Regions from separate parts of the Homo sapiens genome. Here all the other regions are linked to region 3. The links come from fine-mapping of genetic effects on gene expression. A gene starts in region 3. Each other region holds a variant in brackets. All regions are shown on one strand. Distances are from middle to middle.

Region 1 (8,180 bases), 380 kb after region 3:
CTAAACCATGACCCCATCAGTTTAAAACTATTAAAATTTATCAATTTTCATGAAATGTAAGCTACAAAATTGAATATATTGATGAACTTCTTAATATGTAAAAGCTCACTATACCTGGCTGCTTCATAAATTCCTTCTACTACCTCCAAGGCAGTAAGAGAAACAGCTTAGAGACTGGAAGTCCTTTGCCCAAATACAGCCCAGGAATCCAGCCCCCAAATCCAGCCTCTTGGTCATCCACTCTCTGGTGCTGCCTTGCACGTGGTTTGCCACTTTAACTTCCTCCTAGCCGCTCGCCAGGCATCCCAGGATAACGCTGTGGCCTGGGTTCCGTGAGCACCTCTCCCACCCAAAACACTGGAGGGGCCTCTTCTCATTTTCGGTAGACTGCAAGTGTTAGCCGTCGGGACCAGCTTCTGTCTGGAAGTTCGTCAAATTGCAGTTAAGTCCAAGTATGCCACATAGCAGATAAGGGAATGTACAAGACACTCGGTGTCGTGATGGACAGTGATGGCTGTGATGATGTCGTACGCTCAGCTGATCCTTCTCCCTGCTGAGAAGAGTTCAGCTGGATGCAGGGAGCCTTACGTTACATATCAGGAAAAACTTTCAAAAAAAGAGATGTGTTTCAACTGTGAGAGTTAAAATACTAAAGACTCGACCCAAGGACATTGAGTAACATTCTTTCCTGAAAATTTTAAGAGTCACTGGATAATGGTGAAGAAAGCCTGGACTGGAATGTCAGAGGTGCCTGAACTCAAGTCCGGTCACCAGCTGGGTCAACACAGGATAGCTACTTAATCACTCCTCATATCAGCCCCCACCTCTATAAAATGTGGACATTAATATTATCATGAAGGTTTATGGTGAGGAACCAAGAGAATGTAGCTAAAAATCCCAGAACATCATAATTGCTTAATAAATGGCAACTATAATGATTCACTCTTAATACCAAGAGAAATGCCTAGCTCTCTTTTGCTACTTCATTGTAGATGAACTGAATAACCATTTTGGTTAACTATGAATTAAACAGGAATGATCAAACATATACACATACAAACCATGATTAGGAAGGAGCTGGACTCAGGTGACTCTTGGTAATTGCCTTGGGAATGTTAGATGCTGGTTTGCAAGTCCCCAAACAGAACAATCTCCCATAGCTAAATACACTGGGGCATTAGGAAGATGGAGTGAGATTCACAATGGCAAAGACATGGAATCAACCTAAATGCCCATCAACAGTAGACTGGATAGAGAAAACGCAGTGCATATACACCATGGAATACTATGCTGCCATAAAAAAGAATGAGGTCATGTCCTTTGCAGGAACATTAATGGAGCTGGAGGCCATTAACCTAAGCAAACTCATGCAGGAACAGAAAACCAAATACCACATGTTCTCATTTATAAGTGGGAGCTAAATGATGAAAACTCATGGACACAAAGAGGGGAACAATAGACACCAGGGCCTACCTGAGGGTGAAGGGTAGGAGTAGGGAGAGGAACAGAAAAAATAACTACTGGGTAGGGTACTATGCTTAGTCTCTGGGTGATGAAATAATCCGTACAATACCCTGTGACATCAGTTTACCTCTATAACAAACCCGTACACTAATCTCCAGAAAGAGGCCTAGCAACCTGAACCTAAAATAAAAGTTAAGCAAAAAGATGGAGTGAGATCCACCTGCGCCACCAAGAAATGATCCATAGAACAAATCATTACATAAGAAAATAAAAATCACAGACGATTGCTCTCTATGGACACATTTACACAAATCCAAGTAAATGGAGAGGAAAAGGCGCAGGGGGGGATATGGATAAACAGCAGGGTGTTGACCACCAGCCGCTTGGGAAGAAGACCTGCTGTGGGGATGGAAGGGAGAGAGCAGGGAGGCCTCCAGGGTTTATACCCTGTATATTGTTCACGTTTTTTACAATGAGCATTAATTCCTCTGTCACCTATGCAATATTTTTTACATGTTCAAAACAATTCCTAAAAATTATAATTTCAGAGTGTGGCATGATAAAAAATGTAGTGAGGGATAAAACACTACAAATCAGATTCAGTGTATATTGCTTGGGTGATGGGTACACCAAGATCTCACAAATCACTAAAGAACTTACTTGTATAACCAAATACCACCTGTTCCCCAATAACCTATAGAAATAAAAGTTTTTTAATGCAGAGCAAAATTAGGGTGAAGGTTTATGTGGTAGAGTGTGCCACTATTGGAGGAATTTTTTAAATGGTATATACAGACAGACAGACATATCTTCTTCTTCTTTTTTATTTTTTTTAAGACAGAGTCTTACTCTGTCACCCAGGCTGGAGTGCAGTGGTATGATCTCGGCTCGCTGCAACCTCCACCTCCCGGGTTCAAGCGATTCTCCTGCCTCAGCCTCTCAGGTAGCTGGGATTACAGGCATGTGCCACCATACCTGGCTAATTTTTGTATTTTTAGGAGAGACACGGTTTCACCATGTTGGCCAGGCTGGTCTCAAACTCCTGACCTCAAATGATCCGCCTGCCTCAGCCTCCCAAAGTGGTGGGATTACAGGCGTGAGCCACCATGCCCAGCCCAGACATATCTTCTTATATGGACGAAAATAATCTCCAGAAGTAGGCCTAGCCACTGATGAGAATGGCAGTCCATAAGCTGTTACTGTTCTGGGGTGAAATTGTTACGTTTTAAATTTGCTATCTTGTCAATGTAGTATCTATTTAAGGATAATTACTTACATGTTAAAATAAAAAATAGAAAAATTTAGATGCCCAGAGAATAAATTAATGCTTGTAAAACCAAAATAAACACAGACCTGAAGCATCCCAGGTAAGGTTATGTTCCCTTTGACCATTGCTGTTTCTTTAGCTCAGTTTTAGGTGAAGTGTGGATGAAGAGGTGAAGAAAGGAGGTGATTCAAAGAAAGTCTCCACAAACCCGAGATTGTAAAATGTCTCATTATGAGGTCTGGTGGAAATGGATTTGAAAAGCCTAATTTCCAAGTTAAAAGAGGAAAAGAGGCTGGGCGGGGTGGCTCATGCCTGTAATCCCAGCACTTTGGGAGGCTGAGGCAGGTGGATCACCTGAGGTCAGGAGTTCCAGGCCAGCCTGGCCAACATGGTGAAACCCGGTCTCTACTAAAAACACAGAAATTAGGTGGGCATGGTGGCACGCACCTGTCGTCCTAGCCTCCTGGGAGTCTGAGACAGAATTGCTTGAACCTGGAAGGTGGAGGTTGCAGTGAGCAGAGATTGTGCCACTGCACTCCAGCTCCAGCCTGGGCGACAGAGCAACACTCCATCTCAAAAAAAAAAAAAAAAAAAAAGAAAAGAAATAATTCTAAAAGTATTCAAGCAATAAAAGTCAGCTGATATTTATTATCTACTATAGCCAAGGCATGGAGTTGGGGTTTTATTTGCCTACTTTCAGTGAGAAAGATGAGCTAAATCGTTTTTATGGAAAATAAAAAGGAAACATTTAAAGTAACAACAACCAAAAGTATCCACCAATAGTCTCTGCATCACTTGGGAAGCCGCTAGGGAGTGTGGGACACACGCTCAGCTAAACGGCAACAGAGAATCAAGCAACTGCTGGCTTTAGTGCCCTGCTACTCCTAAATATGCTTCAATGTTTGCCTCTTTCACTGGTTAAAAGCACTGTTGTTGGTCTGACGGTCTTTGGTTTCTCTTCTCAGGGAATCTCAGACCGAGCACTTTCATTTCCTTCTCACCATGCAGGAAATGAGTAGACGTGACACTCCTGTTTTGGTAAGAATTGACACACAGCTACCCTCATCTGGTGAACGGACGAATTGGGGCTAAAGCTGAATGGCTGACATGTCAACAACCTGAAATAAAAACAAACCAGCCTTGTTTAAGAGTGAATTTGCTTTGTGCAAATTGTCAAAAAGAAAACACGGAAAAACCGTCTCCTGCAAAGAGGAAGAAAAGGGTTACGTTGTTGACAAAATCTGGGTTTCCTTGCAAATAATGGTCTGTTGCTTGTATGCCATCGTCACATTTTGGATGGCAGATTGTTTAAGAAATTAAAAAAATAAATAAATAAATTATCTAGTTAGCAAAAGGTCTGGAGCACAGAGGCTGGTCATTTACCCCAGGGCCAGGAAGATGAAAGCACGTTCACCCGCCATTTGCGGCTGCCCTAGCGCGTTAGTACCATCTCCCCGTGCCCACAGATATCCACACACAGCAACTCTCAGGGGACAAATGCGAAGCCATGTGATTTTCCCCCTGCTATGTTAAAAATGCATTCCTATTTTTTCAAGCATGCTTCGATTAAAGAGGGCACATCTGTTTTAAGTCCCCTTTTATGAAAATTACTGAGCTTCCTCGGCGTGCTTATCTTTTAATTTCGAAATTCTTTGTAGCAATCACTTGGGATAATAACCAGCCATATTTCTGGCCCCTTTAAAAAATAAAGGGGAGGGTGGGGAGGAAAAAAGAAAGAACGAACAAGCCATTTTAGAGCTTTGAACTCCCTGTTCTAATCCTCCCGCTTTGGGCCTGGGTGGAAAGGGTCCCCCTTCGTTTGCGTTTAGAATGGCTGAGCCCCGCGCGCACTGCCTCAGCCTGGCCTGCCAGCCCCCGAGCCTGGGCCCAGCTTGACGCTGCAGCGCTATTCATCGACTCCCCGGCAGGGGGAGCCGCTGCGCACCGCCACCGCCAGGCAGCAAAGCGCTCAGCTTCCTTTTAAGGCCTCTTCATCCCCCCACCCCCAAACACTTTTCACAGAGTTTCTCACCCCTTTCTTCCCTCTGGAGGGGCTCC[T/C]TGAACGGACACCACCCTGGATGGCTTTTTCCTAGGCAGACCTCCCACCCCCGGCGTTTTTGTTTCGAATAGCACCTAACGGGCGGGGTTGCATTTACCATCTGTGTTTCGAATAGCACCTAACGGGCGGGGTTGCATTTACCATCTGTCTTTCTGCTGTTTTAAACCCTTGTTTAAGGCTCAGGCTGTTCAGAGACGTAATCCGGGGCTTGAGCAAAGAGTGAAAAGTTGAGATTCCTTCTCTGGACTTCCTGCACCGATTTTTTCCTTGTTTCCTCCAAGCGTTGATGAGATGAGAGATGGGCTGTAAGGTGGGGAATGGAACACACGCTTAAGTGTCTGGAAACCGTGTGATTCTTGGGGATGGCCACATAGCTGGAGAACCGTGGAGTCGTCGTGCCTCCTGGGCCACACCCGCCACCTGGCTTCAGTTGGCTGATCAGCAGCAAGAGGCAGAGCTTAACAGTTCTGTTTTCCTCCCCGTGAAATAAGGATAACGACAATTTCAGCTGAGTCTTTATAATCATCTGAAGAAAGGGATCCCTAGATGTCCAAGACGATTTACTGTGTGCTATGTTTAGAGGCTAAAGATAAAATAAGAAGAAACGTGAGGTAACTGGTCTCTTCTCGTCGACGCACTTAGGAAGCCCAAATACTTTCATCCTGAAAGCGTGCAATCCCCTGCCACATTCATGTCTGCAACACTGACTTGGAAATTCCCTGAATAAATAAGCGCATACGGCAGGAGATGCTAATCCAATTTAGAAAAGTTCTGCGGAGCTTGATTTTTCCCTCCCACTGGACAATGCCGGGGTCTTTCCATCTTTATCTTGGCAAATGGGGTCAGGAGAAGAGTGAAAGGTAAAAGTATTAGTTCTGCTTTAGTTCACAGCGCTGACGATCAGTATTCAAATGGGACTGGTGGTGACATGTGGCTTTCAGTCACAGCACACGCTCTCCCTCACCGTGGAAGATTGGTCGTTGAATGTATTTACTATTTAAAAAATGACCTGAATCAACAAAATCTTGCTCACCATCCATACGTACTTATTGTGTATCTACTGCCTACAGGAAGCCTCCAGGCCAGGCACTCAAGAGCAACGCCCATCAATAGAAAGATGTTTCCTGGAGTTAAGATCCTAATCAAGTTGGGGAGACGAGGTCTATAAGAAGAAAAGAATATTAATCGTTAAATGTCAAAGAGTTGCAGCAGCATTTATTCAGAAATTAAACAGCAAAATTATTCTTCATGCTAGGAATATAATTCCTAAGACAAGCAAAGTCTCTGCCATAGTGAAGGCTACCTGGGAGGAGATGGAGGACAGAAAGCAAACACGCAAACAAATAAAAATGTAATTTCAGGCCGGGCGCGGGGGCTCTCATCTGTAATCGCAGCACTCTGGGAGGCCGAGGCGGGCAGATCACTTGAGGTCAGGAGTTTGAGACCAGCCTGGCCAACATGGTGAAACCCTGTCTCTACTTAAAGATACAAAAATTAGCTGAGTGCGGTGGCAGGTGCCTGTGGTCCCAGCTACTCAGGAGGCTGAGGCAGAAGAATGACTTGAACCTGGGAGGCGGAGGTTGCAGTGAGCCGAGATCACACCACTGCACTTCAGCCTGGGTGACAGAGGGAGACACCATCTCAAAAAAAAAAAAAAAACCCAGAAAAAAAGTGTAATTTCAGACAGTGACATGAGCTATGGAGCAAACAGAGCAATGAGGTGGGAGGGGCGGGTGGGGGTGATATGGCAGCACCTCTGGGAAGATGGCACTGAAGCCCCAGGGAGGATGGCTGAGGCTGGGAATAGGCTGGAAGAGGGCTGAGGGTGAGGCTGGAGAGAGGCAGGGCTACATCATCCAGCGTGGAGTTTCCCATGTCTGACGGGCATGGGAGTCAAAATGCAGATTCTGGTTCCAAAAGTGCGTGCACGGGTTGGGGGATGAGATTCTGCATTTGGAACAAGGTGACGGGGCTGCCACACTTTCAACCATGCCTAGAGTAGCAAGGGCCAGAGATTTGGTTTTTGACCTCAGCCTCGCTAGAGTCACCTAGAGAACTTTTACCAATCTCAGATGCTGGGGCCCCTTCCTGGTGGTTCTAATGAACATCAAAGGTTGAGAACTACTGATTTAGCATCTTGGCCATGGTAAATGATAAGGGTCTTATTGTCTCACCCATTGGGAGGGGCTAAGAGCCACCAATCGGCCTTCAGAGGAGGCTTTCCAGGGTAGACCAGGGCTTGAGCCAGACTTCGGTGCACATCAAGCTCAAAGAGATAGAGGTTCAAAGAGATCCATTAGAGATGGATAAAAGGCATAAGCCAGGTTTCTCAACATTTTGCACCATTCTAACATTTTGCATCATAATTCTTTGCTGTGGGGGGGCTCCTGTGTGCTGTGGGGGCACTCCTGTATTCTGTGGCATGCTATGAGCAAACCTGGTCTCTACCCATGAGATGCCCGTGGAACCCTCCCAAGATGTAACAGCCAGTAATATCTCCGGATATTGCCAGTTGTCCCTGGGAAAAGAAATGGACCCCAGTGGAGAACCACTGACATAAACAAAGATGAAAAACCAGAAAAGTCAAAGATCCATGCATTATCTGAATGACATTCACTCCACATCTGTGGTTTACCATCCTGGACTCCGGCGGGCTTTGGAGACAGGTCTCCCTCTCTGAAGGCAGAGAAAACACAGGCTTGGGGTGCCAACAAATGCATACATTTATTTGAAAAGAAAAAATTTGACATTGAAAAAAGGCACCTGATATAGTTTGGCTGTGTCCCCACCCAAATCTCATTCTGAATTGTAGCTCCCACAATTCCCACATATCATGGGAGGAACCCAGCAGGAGGTAATTGAGTCATGGGGGCGGGTCTTTCCCATGCTGTTCTTGTGACAGTGAACAAGTCTCACGAGATCTGATGGTTTTGAAAACTGGAGTTTCCCCGCACAAGCTCTCTCTTTTGGTTTTGAACACTGGAGTTTCCCCGCACAAGCTCTCTCTTTGCCTGCCACCGTCCACGTAAGACATGACTTGCCCCTCCTTGCCTTCCGCCATGATTGTGAGGCCTCCCCAGCCACGTGGAACTATAAGTCCATTAAATATTTTTCTTTGGTAAATTGCCCAGTCTCAAGTATGTCCTTATCAGCAGCATGAAAACAGATGAGTACAGCACCCAAGTAGACACCACTGGGAGAATCAGAATTCTGTTAGTCTTCCTCATTTTAAGTTTTAATATTTCCTTTATTTAAAAGACTGGGCTGCTAATACAAGCAACAATGTGTATGAACCTAGCAGGCAGTCCTGGAGAAGACTCAAAGGAGCACAGAGTATTCGATTCCACCTATGTGACATTGGAGAACAGGCAAAACGAACTCAGGGTCTCG
Region 2 (8,180 bases), 930 kb before region 3:
TTGGCTCATTGTAACCTCCGCCTCCTGGGTTCAAGCAATTCTCCTGCCTCAGCCTCCCCAGTAGCTGGGATTACAGGCATGTGCCACCACACCTGGCTATTTTTTTTTTTTTTTTTGTATTTTTGTAGAGACGGGGTTTCACTGTGTTGGCCAGGCTGGTCTTGAACTCCTGACCTCAAGTGATCCACCCACCTCGGCCTCCCAGAGTGTTGGGATGACAAGCGTGAGCCACCACCCCAGCCTGCTTGTGTTTCTTTCCTCTCCCCCAGGCATAACCAGAACGAATGGCAGATTTACCGCCGCACTTTAATGGGCTGCTCTTTCCCTCCAACTTCCTCCTGCTCTAACCCGCCAAGCCGTCACACAAGCCCAGAGGAAGGTCTCCCGGTCCCCCTCTTCCCTCCCTTTTCTGCCTCTCACCTTCTTCTTTCCTTCAAGATGCCCACCTTCTCCCCACCAACCCCCAAAGCACACCAGAGCAGCAGAAGCACCTTTCAGCCAGCCGGGTGTGTGTTGAAATGGCTAGTGTTCTACTCGGCCCATCGTCTGGAAAGTGAGCGAATGAGAAGCACAGAAAATATTCCTGAAGTTGTTTTTAGCTTCATCGGTGGCTCCCAGGTTTCCCGTGTGTGTGTGTAGGGGGTGTGTGTGTAGGGGGTGTGTGTAGGGGGTGTGTGTGTGTGTGTAGGGTGTGTGTGTGTGGGGGGGGCGCTTGGTGATCTGTGCTCCACACCACATGCAGCAGCGGTGCTCAGAGGGGGACAGTCTGGGTCTAGATGCCTTTTCTGCCACTCAGTGATGTGTTAACCTCAGGCAGGTTCCCAGGTGACCTGGGCTCCCATCTCTTGATCTGTGCGTGTGGAGGGGGAGAGGGCGCATAGGAATAGTCCAAATTCCTAGTTCCTTTTCTGCAATTTCAAAATCCAAAAAGCGCTTGGAAAACATGCAGTCGGGACCCACCTGCCAGCTCTGTGCGTTTTTACTAGCAGGTACCTGGCTGATGGCCGGAGTCCTTGTTCACACGGACATCTACGGACCCACCCGGCTCACAGATGGCAAGGGCTCTTGCTCCCTCCTACCCCAGCCACAGCAATGCCTTTGAGCCACACTAACCCTGCATCGTGCATTTCATGAGCCACAGAGCCCCGGGAATGGCAGGAATAAAACACAGGTTCTCCGACGGTCAGTGACCCTGCTGTTAGCTACCCAGGTCTTGCACTGTTTTCCCTCCTCAAATAACAGCTGTCCTTTGACCAGCACAATCGACCTCTGCTGTGCAAACGCCAGAAGGGAAAGAGGAGTTTTACTGTCTCACCATCCATAAGACCACTCTTTTTCGTGAGTTTGGTGCCAAAACTCCTGTCTGAACTGATGTGAAGTCACCTAGGGCTGTTTGTCCTGCGTCACGGGACTATTCATACATTTTGATTAAGAAACACTGATCTGTTGTTGATGGGCATGGCCTTAGACCTCGCTGGAGATGATATGTAATAGAAGGCTATAGCAGCTGAATTACTAAAATCCCCCAGGTCCTGAATTCTGAAGCCTCATTCCGTGTACGTTTTTGAGCACTGGATGCATGTTGGCTGCTGTTGTTAATTTCTGGCTGGATCCTGACCTCCACTGGAGGCCCTTGGCCAGAGGCCAGCTCTCTCTTCGCTAAAGAAGTGTTGAAGAAAGAAGCATTTGCCCCTCATTGAGGCTGTTCTCCCCTCCACCAGCAGTGAAGATGAATCGGATGGGAATTAGCTTTCTCACCTGCTGGCTTTCCTTTGTTTAGTGCCCCCCCGCACCTGCACCTGCAAACCTCCTTCCTCATGCTACAGACTCCCACGCTCCGTCACTCCTGAGCACCCACCATGTCTGTGGGTGGCCTGTTAGATACACGCTCAGGCATTGTCCCGGCAAAGGGTCTGAGCACGGAGCCTCCCTGGCTCAGCGTGCTTACACAGGGCCCACTGGCAGATTCACTGGGGGTCAGTCTTGGAATGGACGTCAGACTCAGGCATCATGACTGGGGGCGGGGGGAAGTCAAGCATCGTGAGTAGGGGTCAGAGTCCCCACCCTACCACCTTGTCCTCTGGCTCTGTATTGAGTAATTGCTATGCACAGGGCTCATTGACTGAGAGGTTATTTCTGACCCTACCCAGTTGGCTTGCTCAGTTTCCATCTGCAGAAGATTCCCATAGCTGTTTTTTTGTTTTTTATTTTTTTCTTTTGAGACGGGGTCTCACTCTGTCACCCAAGCTGGAGTGCAGTGGCGCTATCTCAGCTCACTGCAACCTCCAGGTCCCTGGTTCAAGCAATCATCCTGCCTCAGCCTCTGGAGTAGCTGGGACTACAGGCGCGTGCCACCACGCCAGGCTGATTTTTGTGTTTTTTAGTAGAGACAGGGTTTCACCATGTTGGCCAGGCTGGGCTTGAACTCCTGACCTCAAGTGATCCACCCGCCTTGGGCTCCCAAAGTGCAGAGATTACATGTGTGAGCCACAGCTCCCGGCCCCCTAATGGCTGTTTTTGATACTTATTTTAAAGTGAGCCCCTAACTGTAACCATGATGTTCAGGGTGAAATAACTTCAATTCTCCTATAAATCAATGACTACTCTGTGTTTTAAGAGGTGGGTGGAAGGTTCATGCTGAAGAGTTTAGAGAAGAGCTTCGTGTTCTTTTGCATGGTCCTGACTTTACCCGATGCAGGAGCTACTGGGAGAACAATCAACGTACGCTGGCAGTCGGGGTGATGACATGGTCACATTGATGTGTCGTCAGCGGCGACAGTTTGACAGTTTGGATAGTGCCATAAAATGTGACCAGAGGGATGGTGCCGTGTACAAGAAAAGTACCACAGTCAGATGCACGTTCCTCTTCTAGGCATTGAGGTCTTGAAGGAGGAGCCTCACAACTTGCAGTTTTCAACAAAATAAATCTGTCCCATGACCAAATAATTTTTGGAAAATGAGGCAGGCACGGCAGGTTGCCTTAGACCTGTCAGGCTTCCTGCAATCCCCTGGGGGCGCTGTTGGACACTGTTAGAAAACGCTCATTCCTGAACCCCACCCTCCACCCACCCAATCAGTATCTCGGGGACTGAGGGCGGGTATGTGGGGCGTGTGTGTTTTACAAGCTCCCTTAGAGAGTCTTACAGCAAGGTTTGAGAAGCAAAGCCACCGTCGAAGCCTTAATTAACTCAAAGCCTCCAACCAGAAAAGCCCGAGGAAAACCCGAGATCTTTAACGACGGCGGCCTGCGCCAGCCTTGAGACACTTCCTCGTCAACGTCTCCCATCGACAAGCTGTCGTATTTGAAGCAGCGGGAGAGGAGCTTCGGGGCTGTTTAGTTTAACACACCAAGCCTGAAATTCAAGAGTTTTCCTGTGATTGACTGTAGCTCATCTTGGAAAAATAAGTATATATCACTTGCTGAAGGTTGTCAGAATGTAATGCTCTTTAAAACCGTAACGTTTTAAATCTGCCAGCCCCAGCATGCATCCTGCTCAAGGCTTTTGCTTCTCGTGGAGGAGTTTTTTTCCCCTTCTGTTCTATGGCTTTGAGGTGACATCATCATGAGAAGGATTGTAATGAGGTTCTAATATTCATTTTATAAAATGGGTACTGGCTGGGCGCAGTGGCTCACACCTGTAATCCCAGCACTTTGGGAGACCAATGAAGGTGGATCACTTGAGGCCAGGAGTTCAAGACCAGCCTAGCCAACATGGCAAAACCCTGTCTCTACTGAAAAAACAAAAATTAGTCGGGCGTGGTGGCACAAGC[C/A]TGTAATCCCAGCTGCTTGGGAGGCTGAGGCAGGTGAATCGCTTGACCCCGGGAGGCAGAGGTTGCAGTGAGCCGAGATCGCGCCGCTGCACTCCAGCCTGGGCGACAGAGAGAGACTCCATCTCAAAAGCAAAACAAGAAAACAAAATGGCCACCACTTCTTTTCCTCTGGATCTTGGTGAAACCTCAGGGGGATGGAGCAGGTCAAAAGGATTCAATGAGAAATGCTCCACCAGCAGCTCCAGACTCCTCAGAAAGGAAGAAGCTCTGAGGACGGTCATCAACTAATTGAGTAATTACTCTCTAAAGACAAAACCATGCTCTTTTGCATGATTATTATTATTATTTAACATCACAAGTGCATTACCTGAGCCAGCGTTGGCACACCTGTGGCCCTGGACCTACATCTGGTCTGCACATGTGTTTTGTTTACTTTGCTGTATTCTTAAAATATTGAATTACCTGTTGATATTTAACATGGAACACTTTTACATAAATATCCAGAATTTAGACCTCTCTTGGAAAAGAAAAGAAATGCGGCAACCAGCATAGGCCTGTATTTACCATGTGGCTGTGTGCACCTCCCACTTCACCTGCTGGGCCCCGGAAGGCATTTGCGTTTCCCACCGCTGATCAGGAACAGGTGAGGCTTGTTTTAAACTCTCTTGAGAGATGGAATTTCTGTACTTGGTTTTGCTTTGAGTTTTTAGCGTCTGCCCTCTATAATGCCTTGTGAGTTCTTTTCTTTTTTCTTTTTTCTTTTTTTTTTTTTTTTGAAACAGAGTTTCACTCTTGTCGCCCAGGCTGGGGTGCAATGAATGGCGCTATCTCAGCTCACTGCAACCTCTGCCTCTCAGGTTCAAGCGATCCTCCTACCTCAGCCTCCTGAGTAGCTGGGATTACAGGTGTGTGCCACCATGACTAGCTAATTTTTTTGTATTTTTGGTAGAGACAGGGTTTAACCATGTTGGCCAGGTTGGTCTGGAACTCCTGACCTCAGGTAATCTGCCCACTTCAGCCTCCCAAAATGCTGGGTTTACAGGCATGAGTCCCCGCACCCGGCCTGTGAGTTATTTTCATAAATAATTTTCAAGAGTAGATCACTGCATAGCCAAGCAGAAGATCCTGAGTGGACACCCCCTCCTCCGGGGTTACAGTGCGTGTGTGTGGCTGTCAGCCAATCGGCTTTTCCGCAGCTCCCAGCTGAAACCTGTGTGAAACCTGCAGCACCTGGGCTGGAAGGATCTGCCTCAGGGACACTCAGGTCTGCAAGTCCTGCTGTGTAGCTCTCCAGTGCATTTGATAAGGTGCCCGGTGTCAGATTCCAGAGCCATGGCTGATGTCCGGCATGGCATGTCAGGGCGGGCACGGCTCTCCTCCTCCGTGTGAGTGTCTGGCCCTGCCTTCCTGTGTGCGGCATCGTCCTGAGGTCGGTGGGAATTGCTGCAGTGGATCCGGGCTCCCCATGCGACCTGGGTGGCCTCAGAGGCTGGAGGGGGCAGTCGTTCCTAGTGTTCTCTTCTTAGAAGGAGGAAACCACTTTTTCCAGAAGACACTGACTGCTGATCTCTCCCTCCCATCTTGTTACGGGAAAGGGGTCCCGATCCAGACCCCAAGAGAGGGTTCTTGGATCTGTCGCAAGGAAGAATTCAGGGTGAGTCCGTAAAGTGAAAGCGAGTTTATTAGGAAAGTGAGGGAGTAGAAGAATGGCTACTCCGTAGACAGAGCACCGTGAGGGCCGCTGTTTGCCCATTTTTATGGTATTTCTTGATGATATGCTAAACAAGGGGTGGATTATTCATGTCTCCCCTGTTTAGACCATATAGGGCAATTTCCTGACGTTGCCATAGCATTTGTAAACTGTCATGGGGCTGGCGGGAGTGTAGCAGTGAGGACAACCGGAGGTCATGCTCATCGTCCTCTTGGTTTTGGTGGGTTTCCGCTGGCTGCTTTACTGCAAACTGTTTCATCAGCAAGGTCTCTGTGACCTGTGTCTTGTGCCGACCTCCTATCTCATCCTGTGACTTAGAATGCCTTAGCCTCCTGGGAATGCAGCCCAGCAGGTCTCAGCCTCAGTTTACCCAGCTGCTATTCAAGATGGAGTTCCTCTGGTTCAAACGCCTCTGACAATCTCAGTGGCCAGACTTGGGTCAAACGTTGGCAGGGGAGAACAGGGTAACAGTGTTCATTCTCTACTGCATGTAACAAATCACCACAAACTCAGCAGCTTGAAGCCACACCTGCCTGCTGTCTGGCAGTTTCTACAGGTCCAGGCTCTGGGCACAGCCCAGGTGGGTCCTCGGCTTGGGGCCTCATGTCCCACCAGTCCCTCTCGGTGGCTGGGCCACATTCTCCTCTAGGGCACGGTTGGTGGCGGGGTTCAGTTTCTTGTGACTGTGGGACTAAGGCCATTGTTCTCTCGCTGGTTGTTGGCCAGGGGCCACCCTCAGCTCTTAGAAGCTGCCAGGACAGATGCCCCTGGATGTGTGATGGGCTACATCTCAATAAACCCACTGGAAGCTGAAAATGCACTTAACAGCCTGGGCAACACAGTGAAACCCCGTCTCCAGAAAAAATACAAAAATTAGCCAGATAAGGGGCATGTGCCTATATTTCCAGCTACTTGGGAGGCTGAGGTGGGAGGATCTCTTGAGCCCAGGAGGCTGAGGCTGCAGTGAGCTGTGGTTGCACCACTCTACTCCAGCCTGGGTAACACTGCGAGACTCTGTCTCAAAAAAAAAAAGATGAGAAAATGCACTTAATACACCAACCTCCGGAGCATCCCGGCTTAGCCCAGCCTACCTCATCAGTGCTCAGAACACTTACACTAACCTATAGTTGGGCTGTCATCCAACACAAAGACTGTATTACAGTACGGTTTTGCATATCTCATATAATTTATCAACTACTGTACTGAGAGTAAAAATAGAACGGTTGTATGGGTGCCTGAAGTACAGTTTCTACCAAATGCATCTCACTCTCACACCATTGAAAAACTGAAAAACCTTAAGCTGAACCATCATAAGTCGGGACTGTTTGTGGTTTCTTGCCCCACGGCCTGGCAACATAGGGTGTCCCCTGCTCTGCTTTGCTGAGATGAAGTCCTGTGTGACACCACCCTGTCGAGGGAGCCACATCCCGGGACCTTTGCCATATTCTGTTGGTTGGAGGCAAGTCCACCCACACTCACGTCACAGGTGGGGGTGGCTGGGGTCAGCCCAGGGTGTGTCTGCGACCCCACAACAGGCTCGGACAAATCAGGACCAACTTTTGGAAGTGGAGACAGGGTCTTCTTCCCAGACCATGTTGTAAAGGGGTAGAACTTCAAACATTCACGGTTCTCTTGTTGAAGAGGAGGAGCTGAGTGCCTGGCAAGAGTGTCAGTTATACATCACTGTGTAACTAAGAATCCCAAAAGTCAGTGCCTTACAACTACCGCCATTTGATTTGTTTGCAGTTTTCCGAGTCTGCAGTTTGAGCTGGATTCGCGGGGTGGTGCTTCTGCTGATCTGGTGAGTGGCCTGGGGCCACTGGTCCAGCAAGAGTCTTCTGGCGGCTGGCCTGGAGCTGGATGTTCCGAGACGGCCTCACTCATGGTGTTGGTCACTGCTCAGTGTCCCTGTTCACATGGCCTCCCTTCCCCCAGGAGACTAGCCCAGGCTTTGCTTTACCTGGTGGTCTCCAGGGCCGGGGCGCATGGAAGCTATAAGGGCTTTTGAAGCTTTGTGTGGAAGGCAGACGGCATCACTTCCGATATATCCTGTCAGTCAAAGCAAATTACCCGAACAAGTCAGATTCATCGGGGGCGGGGTGGGGAATAGACCACACCCACTCAACGGGGACAGTGGCAGTGTCATATCGCAAAGAGATGTGCATACAGGGATAGAGGGTGTGGCCATCTTTGCAAACCATCTTCGCTGGTAAGCACACGACAGTCTGTGTCCACATGGATTTCTCACGTCTACAGGCGCGTGTCCAGCAGATTCCCGATGCAGCCACACAGGAGCTTTTAGTCCAGAAGAAAATCCCAGAGCCTCAGGGAGTGACTTAGGATTCAAGAGAGATTTTTGCTTTTGCTAATGGTTTTCCTTTCCTTTCTTTCTGCCACTCATCCAGGGTTTTAAGCCAGCAGCCAAGACGTTGCTTACTCATAACCCCCCTCTCTCTTGCTTTATTTAAGTCTATGTTTTTTCGTTCACTTTTCCATGCGGAGAGAAAAGAAGAGTGTGTTTTATCACAATCTGTTCCTAGAAACTCTTTTATTGAGGATTTGGTTGTAAAAGGGCCATGCATTCTGTAGGAATAGTAAGCAGAGCGGGGAAGGAGGGGGTTGGGTTTCCACCAAAGTCTCCACGTCAGATAAATCAAAGATATGACCAGCATCATAAAATAATATACCCAGCTATAAG
Region 3 (8,180 bases):
TCACCCATTTTTCCTCTCAGCCCACCCTCCATACACCTGCCCCCTCCCATAAAGTTCACAGTAATGCATTAAAGCTCATCTGCAGGCTAGCACCATTGCAAACTACATCAAGCTGCCAGCAAAGCTAGACCTTAAACATTTAAGGCCATTCCCCAGAAAAATTAGGGGCCATAGGACAAGGCTGCTGGGGAAACTCCGTGTGTCATACCATACTTCCTAGGTCCCAGGGGCATAGAAATACAAGCAACAAAACTTTATGTTTATTTGTTTTTAAAAAATATCTACAAGAGGGTGGGTTTGTTCTATAACTAATCATTTTCTGCTTATGAAATATAAACGTGTAAGGCTCAAGCATATTAACCTGGTATTAAAATCTGCCCTTTGTTTCATTCAAAAATTCCTATTTGGAAAGACAATACAGTAGAAATGATAATATGTGGAAACAGATATTTAATACTTGATAATATTCTTTTTCAATCAGCCCCAGACAAATGAGGCACTTTGGGGTATGTGTGTATGTGTGTGTGTCTGTGTGTTTACTTTCAATTAAAATCCTTTTCAATATAGTCCATACTTGATTGCAAGATGGGTGAGAACTTTCAAGTGATCAGAGAATCTTAGAGGGAGGTGATATGAACACATTGGGAAAAGAATGGCCCTGTCCCTGAATGTATAAATCACATCTGCATCATGAAATTCCATTTTATGCAATTTGCTAATAGGGGTGTTGATTTTTTTCTTGTTCTTTGACATATTGTGACTAATCCTGAATCATCTACCATGTGCTCAGACTCTGCTAATTGCTGTACAAAGTCTCCACACAGAACTGATTCACTTTTGAACTGTCTGGCTGACTTGCTTAAGTTCAATACACAAAATATGTCATATGCTAGGCTTATCGTAAACATTTTACGTGCTAATTTTTGGCCACCTAGTAAAGAGGCTTCCACATCACACAGGACCTCATTTAAGGACATGTTCAGTGTTCCCAGTTGAAAAAGTTCACAAGTATTAGGCTAAATACAATTCTCTTCAACACTGCTCAGTCTAATAAAGAAATCAGTAACAGACCTATGTACCTAAGTGAAAAAACACAATAGTGAGGTCCTATTTCCAAAGCTATTCTGTACCTTTCTTAATACAACCTTGTTATTGCAGCATAAACACAAAGAAGTCTGGACCTATTATAAAACCAAGTGAGAACCAACCCCCCCCGCCCCAAAAAAAAAATGCTGGGCTGTTGTTGCTGTGGATTTTGGTTTTTTTAACCTCACGTCTGCCTGAGTCAGGTTCACTGAATTCATCAACCTTTTCTTTGGTTTCCTGTGCACATTATAAATCCAGAAGGCTCTGATCCCAGGGATTGTTCTAACTCATAATTAGGAAACGTGAGCCCATTTCAACCACACTTCAAAGACAGGGAAGGAGGGGGAACGTAAATTCCTCTTTCTAAATCGAACCATCACAGAACTCGGCATTTCAACTGTCTTCATCTATTATCAGATCCAAAGCAACATAACCTCAGTGATTCTGGAAGAACTCAGAGAACAGACAATTCATGTAATTAAAAGACTTTGTGCGTGATAATTGGCTTTGAAGTTTCTGAGAGAGATCTCATCTCAAAAATCTTTGCAGAAAAATATGGGTACAGGGTTCTTGCAGCACGTATTAGAGACTGCTGAGACGCTTCACTCTCCTCCCAGTGTATCTATCTGCAGGAAAGGGGCACGGGTGGGGGAACCACACACAAGCAGCCCAGGTCAATCATGAGAAAGAATCTCCCGCACAAATCACACCATTTCTCTTCAAGGAAGAATGACTGTCCAGAGCTTCCAAACTTGCTCTTCCCATGACAGACAGGGATGCTGGCAGAAGAGAAGAGGAAACATTGAGGAATTCCTGCCTTGACACATGGCTTCAAGTCAGGGCTCCGCTGGGAAAATTCGGGTCACAACTTGTAGCTGAAACTCCACGTGCACCCTGCGGGGCCGCTGCTGCTCCCAGCACCCTACGGAAGGGTGAGCGCCAGACCCTGTGCCCAAACCTCACAGCGGCAGACCTGGAGAAACCCATCCCCCTTCTTCAGAGCCGCCCCCCAGGCTATATTTTTGGCAGCCTATAATACACAAAATAGTATTCCCATACAACAGGAGTGCTCCAAAATTATTTCCAAATAGGTCAGTGCCACCAGGGAAAGTCAATCCCAAATTCCAGAAATCTCCCTGGTCATCTCAATCCCCTCCTCCCCCGACAGCCGGCTCGGCCCTCCAGAGGCCACCTTTCCTCTCAAGGGTCCCCACGCCCTCTCCCTTTACAGAAAAGGCTTTCAGGAAACAGCCTTCCTTTCCTTTCGGCTCCTTAGTAGTCTCACCTAAGGCCTCCCACCCAAGTGCTCCAGGACAAGCACCTTCGGCCAAGGGGCGTCCGAGGAGCTTGGCTGCCGCACGAGCGCACGTTCACACGCGCGCACACACACATGCACACAAGCGCGCACACACACTTGCACACGAGCCCTCTCTCCCGGCCGCCCCCATCCTCCACACACTCCCACACACTCACTCCAGGCGAAGTTAGTCCCCGGGCCCTGGCGGCCGCGGCGTCCTCACCTTTGGAAAACAGGGCGGCCAGGCTGATGAGTACCGGCGACCAGTGGTGCCACAGCGTCCCCATCTCAGACGGGCACATCCTGGAGACCCGGAGCGCAGATCCTCCGCTCCCCGGCGCCGTCCAGGCGAACAAGAGACCGTCTCAGTCCCCTAGAGGCCCGCAGCGGGGCCGGTGGCGAGGGAGCGCCCGGCTAGGGGCCCGAGCAGCCCGGGCGCCCTGCTCCCTCTTCCCGCCAGTCCATGGCCAGGCCGGGAGGCGACGACCGCGCGGGCTCCTGAGTTGCTCTCCGGAGTCCAACACGCGCGCAGGCAAACCCCACCTCCCTCCTTCGACCCCAACAGAATTTTTTTTAAATTTTAATCCACAGGGGGTATTTCCTTTCCTGTTTACCCGAGCGAAGAGTGGCCCCCGGTGGCCCAAGGAGGGGCGCCTCCAGGCGCAGGGCTCCGGCGGCTCCAGCTGCTCCCGGGCTGGCTAGCGGGCGCTGGCGCAGGCGGCGCCGGGGTGGCGGGGCTGCGGAGCCCGGGACGCGGGCAGAGGCGGCTCGGAGCCCCCCGGGCGGGTGGCCGGGCTCGCTGGGCGGCCCGGGGCTCCCTGGCCCGCAGCCCCCATCCCAGGCCGGCCGCTGCGCCTCGGGGCTCGGGCGCGCGCGCGCTCCGGCACCCAAAGTTTGGCGGGTGCGGCTGCTCCCCGGCCGCCGCCTCGGCCCGCCCGGCCCCGGGCCCGGCTGGGGCTCGCGGGGCTCTACGCGCGCCGAGCGCACTGCAGGCTCCGGAGACGCGGGGCTCCCCCCTGCGCCCGGGGGAGGCGGGCCAGATGTGCGCGGAGGAGGGCCCGCCGGCTCGGGGACGCGGCCGAGCAACGCAGCTGCCTCCTGCCAGCAGGCGCGGGGGCTCCGCTCCGCAAGGACCGCATCCGGAACGGAACGGAGGCGATCGCCACGGTGCCCGGAGCCGGCTGGGGCTTTCGCCTTAAAAATTTGTCTGCTTTTAAAAAGCCCCACCCTTTCGGAGTGACAGCTGTGAGCCCCAATCCGCAAAGTAAATCCCACCTCCCCCTGGCCGCCCCACGCCCAGCCTCCCGGCCACCCTCCCTGCGAGCGCGGACGCGCGGTGGCGGCGGGCGAGGGCTCCCAGCGCGGGCGCACCCCGGGGACGGAGCCACCCACTCTCCCAACAGGTGTCCAGCTGGCCACCGGCCTCTCGTCGTCATCAAAACCTCAGGCCCAGGGGAGGTCCTCCAGCCCGGGGGCACCTGAGGCTCTTCGCCAGGGAGAGCGCAAGGATGGCTGGAGAAGGGCCCTCGCCCCGCCCTGCGCATCTCCCAGGGATCGCAGTGAGGAAGTCTCTGACACGCCACACTGAGGTCATGCTGGCCCCAAGCCCCTTCCCAGAGCGATCCCCCAAGTTAGTGTCCCTAGAAACATGTCGTGTGCTCCCCAGGGCTCACTGGGAAAGGAAATGGATCCATTAGGAGACAACATTGCTTTGAGAAGATAAAAGACATGATTCTCAACACCGCCCGGAATCTCCAACTAAGACATTCCCACACCAAGATCCCTAAGCACCGTCCTGTAATTTGTAGCCCAAGAACTGCTTTGCTCCACGAGAGCCTTTAAATTAACCCCATCAAAGCTCAGAGGGAAGAAAAGCATTCAGAATTTTTAAGGAATATTGTAAACCAACAAGCCCTGAATCTAATGAGGTGAATTCACCTCAGTAGATAAAAATGGGTCGTTATCATCTGACTGAGGGGGCAATGGACTTTTTTATCCTGTATGCCTGTAGTTGCAGAAATATACCAATGCTTTAAGAGTTTTTAGCTTTCAAAGTTTCAAGGAAGATCAAAAAAGCCACTGCTGTTCTACCGAAGATTGTTTTTCTGGGTTCATGTCCTTTGAGATGTGCTCTTGTCTTTTATTCTGTATCTACTTATCTGAATATATCTGTCTTTCTGTTTTTTCTTTTGTTTGTTTCTTAAACTTGTTGCCTTTTCTCTTTGTATTGCTCTCCTGTAAAATTCCTAAGAGTCGACGCTGCAAAGACCCTAAGAGATTGTCTCTTTCACTGTTTCTGAAGTTTGAACCAGCAGGAGAGTCACTGGAAAATTTGTTAGACCTGGGTTGCTGGGCCCACCCCAGAGCTATCTCGGCAGGTCAAGGTGGGACTTCCGATCTCCGTTCCTAAAAAGTTCCAGGTGATGCTGATGCTGCCGGCCTGCGGAACACGTGCTGGAACCACTGGTCCCCTTTCTCCTTCACCTGAGTGATGAGAGAGCTGAGCTTTCGTCTCTTGGACACCTTCACCTGGTCTCTGAGTGTCAAAATTGATGCCCGCACTGAATGCATAATCCAGGTTCCATCCTTAACGCTACAGTGGGTCTGAGTCTATTTGTAAATCATCTATTTGTGACACTGAGTCTATTTGTAAGACATTTCTCAGACATATTGACTAGAAACAAGTGGTCCCTGTTCTTTATTAAAAACAATCATTTTATGTTTCTCTAAATCAAATTGAGTTTTTCCCCTGAATTGCAATCATCAAATAACTTTTCTTTTTGCCATTGCAGAAGGTTTCTCTATCTGTAATGTGAAGACAAAAGGTGACTGTCAAGTTCCAGCTGCTGCCTAAAATGTTAAACGGTTTCTTCATTATGCGTAGTTGGCGAAACAAAAGTTTTTTCCACTCTTTGGTATGGAAGATTTTTTGGGAAGATGCAACTTCAGATACCTAATCAGTGGCTAAAATAAGATGCAAGAATGGCTTCTTACTTTTTCTCTCTCCAGTATGCCATTCTCCCTGGTACATCTAATCTTCTTTGGGTAATTAACACAGCTAATTGTGGGGAAGCAAAACTTAGACTTGGAGATGGACACTGAGGGCTCATAGGTCCCTAACTCCAGCCCCTGCCCCAGGACAACTTCCCATCAAAATCGCCTGCCTTGTCTCTCTCAAGTTACTTGTAAGAAATCTGCTTTCCTCCAAGAATATGTGTTTCATCTGCGGGGCCATAAATCAAGCTGTAAGCCTAATTTTGTCGGTAATTAAATTGCACTAATTGTTCATGCTGTGTGGATGAGGCTTTTACACTAAGCAGTTTTTGTTGTTATTTTTCAATAAAACAAAAACATTCCCTGTAGCAGTTTTTGAGAAATGGCAACTTTGAGCGTTGATAAAGGCAGAAAGGAGCTGGAATTCAAGTACTGCAGGGGCTATGCCACTGGTGGATGAGAGGACACTTTCAGGCCCTCTAAAGATGGGGCCTCCTGTAAAACTGAAGCCATTCTCTTCCAGTCCTTCTGACTGCATCCAGGAGAAAGGCTCAGGCCTGAGCTACTCCGGAACAGCCTTTTAGTAATTGCAAATGTCCATGTTTTTTAAACAAAAAAGGAAGCTCTTTCTGCACAATGACAACATCTAGCTCAAGTTACTAACATCGATTTGTTTTTATTTTGATTATTATTATTTTTGTTTTCTCTCCTTTTACTTGGTGATGCATTTTGTTTAAAAAATATCAAGTTATGTATGTTTATGAAGATGGGAAATGAGTAATGGATTTAGCAATCACTACTGACACGGGTGCAGGCACCGTCTTCTCTCTATGACAATACTCCGGAAGATGGTGAGAAATGAAGTTTGGGAAACCTTAGCATGAAGTGAGAGCTACCAGATCAATCCCTCCTGAAGATGCAGAAGAGACTTTTTGAAACTCCCTGTCTTCCCAGTTTTCCAAAATTCATGAAATGACTGGGAAATAGAAAGGCCTGGTTCAATCAACTGTCTCTTTCACTAGTGGGGAAAGCCTTCTGATGTTGAGGGCACTGTAAACACTGGGAACATTGCACACCCTTCCTGGTAAGGCCAGCAGGAGATCATCCTTCCAGAAGGAGCACCTCAGCGGAATCCATGCTGTGCCCTTGAGGAAGGTGTGTGTTTGCCAAGACCTGTCACTCTCTCCTTCCCAGCGCATGGATGACTACTCTTCTCAGCCCCTTGCAGTTGACCAACTAAATGTGAGCAGAAGTCATGGGGGTCATTTCTCTGGTGGGGCAGTGAAAAGCTCACCTGTGACTCCTCATTCTGCACCTGCCCTGCCCTGGGAGAAGAGTGGACCCTGTGTTTGAGATGGTGCAGCTGCTACAAGGTGAGCCTTCCAGCCAGCAGTCCAGCAAGTTGATGAGAGAGCAAAGTCCCCCGTCAATCCACATTAAGAAGTATGGTAAAAGAAATTAATTTTTATTGTGTTAAATCATCAAACTTCTTGGTTCTTCCAGGTTAACCATACTAAAATCCAGACCTACTTTTACTCTCCTCTCTCTGTCCTTCTCCCTTTCTCATCTCTTCCCAGAGCTCCACAAGCAGATGTTAAAAAGTTGGAATATTCGTGCTCTCCCAGGTGACCCATGGTGTCACCAGGTAACTGCCAGGTGAACCTCGCAGAGCAGCCTCTTCTGCAAAGACCAATAGGATACTGCTGCATTTTCCTTAAGTTACTGATTTATGGATCAATACAGAAAGGTCAGCAGGCCTTGAATAGTCTTCTTTGAAGTCACATGCTGGACTTCTTGGTACAAATTATGTATTTGTACCTCTAGCCTGATTAGTCCCTGAGTGTTTCTCGGTCAGGGGTGAGGTCAAGGAGAAGCTGCAAGGCTGCCTCTGCAGGAAACCCTTTGTTGTAAAGACTGCCTGGATTTTGCATGCACTGGAACCTGTGACAGAAGCATGTTCCCTCACCCCTGCTTCCTCTACCTGCTGGAGACACAGCCAGACCACATGCCCTGGCCTTCCTAAGGTTAACTGTCGCTATGGTTATGTCCAAAAGAACCTGGGAGGAAGGGATGTGCCTCCCTTTCAGGGGGAGAGTTTGGGAGCCTGTGAAACCCTCAAACTCTCTTCCTGCCTTTTCAAGCTGAATGCAAAAATTCAAGGGAGAACCCCCAAGCCTTCAGCAATGGCAGAGTTGCAAGTTGGAATGAGTCTGGTTCCGAAAATGTGGAATGCCACTTCTTTTGCATGGAATTTTGGGTGAGCAAGAAATAAGATGACATGGTGTTAAGTCATGGAGGTTCAGGGCTTTGTTTGTTAGAATGAACCATTCCAGGCAATACAGGGTGTATTGATCTCATCACTGCCAACAGAAGCAGGAGTGGGATATAAGGAAACACCTCTATCAGCTCCTGAGACTACAGCGAAGCTTTGGCCCATTTTACAGTATGAAGAGAGTCCAAAGGAGGGAGGAACCACCAACCACCACCAGCTAATGAATGCATGAGGTGCTCTGTCCCCTGTACCAGGAACTAGGGAAAAGGCAAAGGATGCCCTTGGAGAGCTGGAATTCGATCTCTTGGACGCATGAGGTGCTCTGTCCCCTCTACCAGGCACCAGGGAGAAGGCAAAGGATGCCCTTGGAGAGCTGGAATTCGATCTCTTAGGGTCTTCAAAGAATATTGCAGAGAACAAGTATCATCGGTTCCAAGAGAGGGTCCTCCTGGGCTGGAGCAGTCTGAGGAATGGGATTTATATGGATTCCTCCTTCCATTCAATACTTATTTATTCAGGGTGTACCGCTGG

Evidence for each region. PIP is the estimated chance that this variant, and not a neighbour inherited with it, causes the effect.
Region 1: its variant is fine-mapped to the expression of TMEM132D in prostate (GTEx, PIP 0.95).
Region 2: its variant is fine-mapped to the expression of TMEM132D in whole blood (GTEx, PIP 0.94).

Annotation. Positions count from the first base shown.
Region 1 is chr12:130,276,706-130,284,885 of GRCh38, forward strand. No RefSeq gene overlaps it. Among named protein-coding and RNA genes, the nearest start is that of PIWIL1, 57 kb to the right of the region's middle. The variant T/C (reference allele first, on the strand shown) is at 4,790.
Region 2 is chr12:128,973,250-128,981,429 of GRCh38, forward strand. All of the region lies in intron 11 of GLT1D1 (glycosyltransferase 1 domain containing 1), which reads left to right. Among named protein-coding and RNA genes, the nearest start is that of GLT1D1, 120 kb to the left of the region's middle. RefSeq lists an enhancer at 3,308-3,812. The variant C/A (reference allele first, on the strand shown) is at 3,772.
Region 3 is chr12:129,900,655-129,908,834 of GRCh38, forward strand. TMEM132D (transmembrane protein 132D) reads right to left here and starts at 3,371. Exons shown (of 9, transcript NM_133448.3): 1 at 2,607-3,371. The coding sequence starts at 2,685.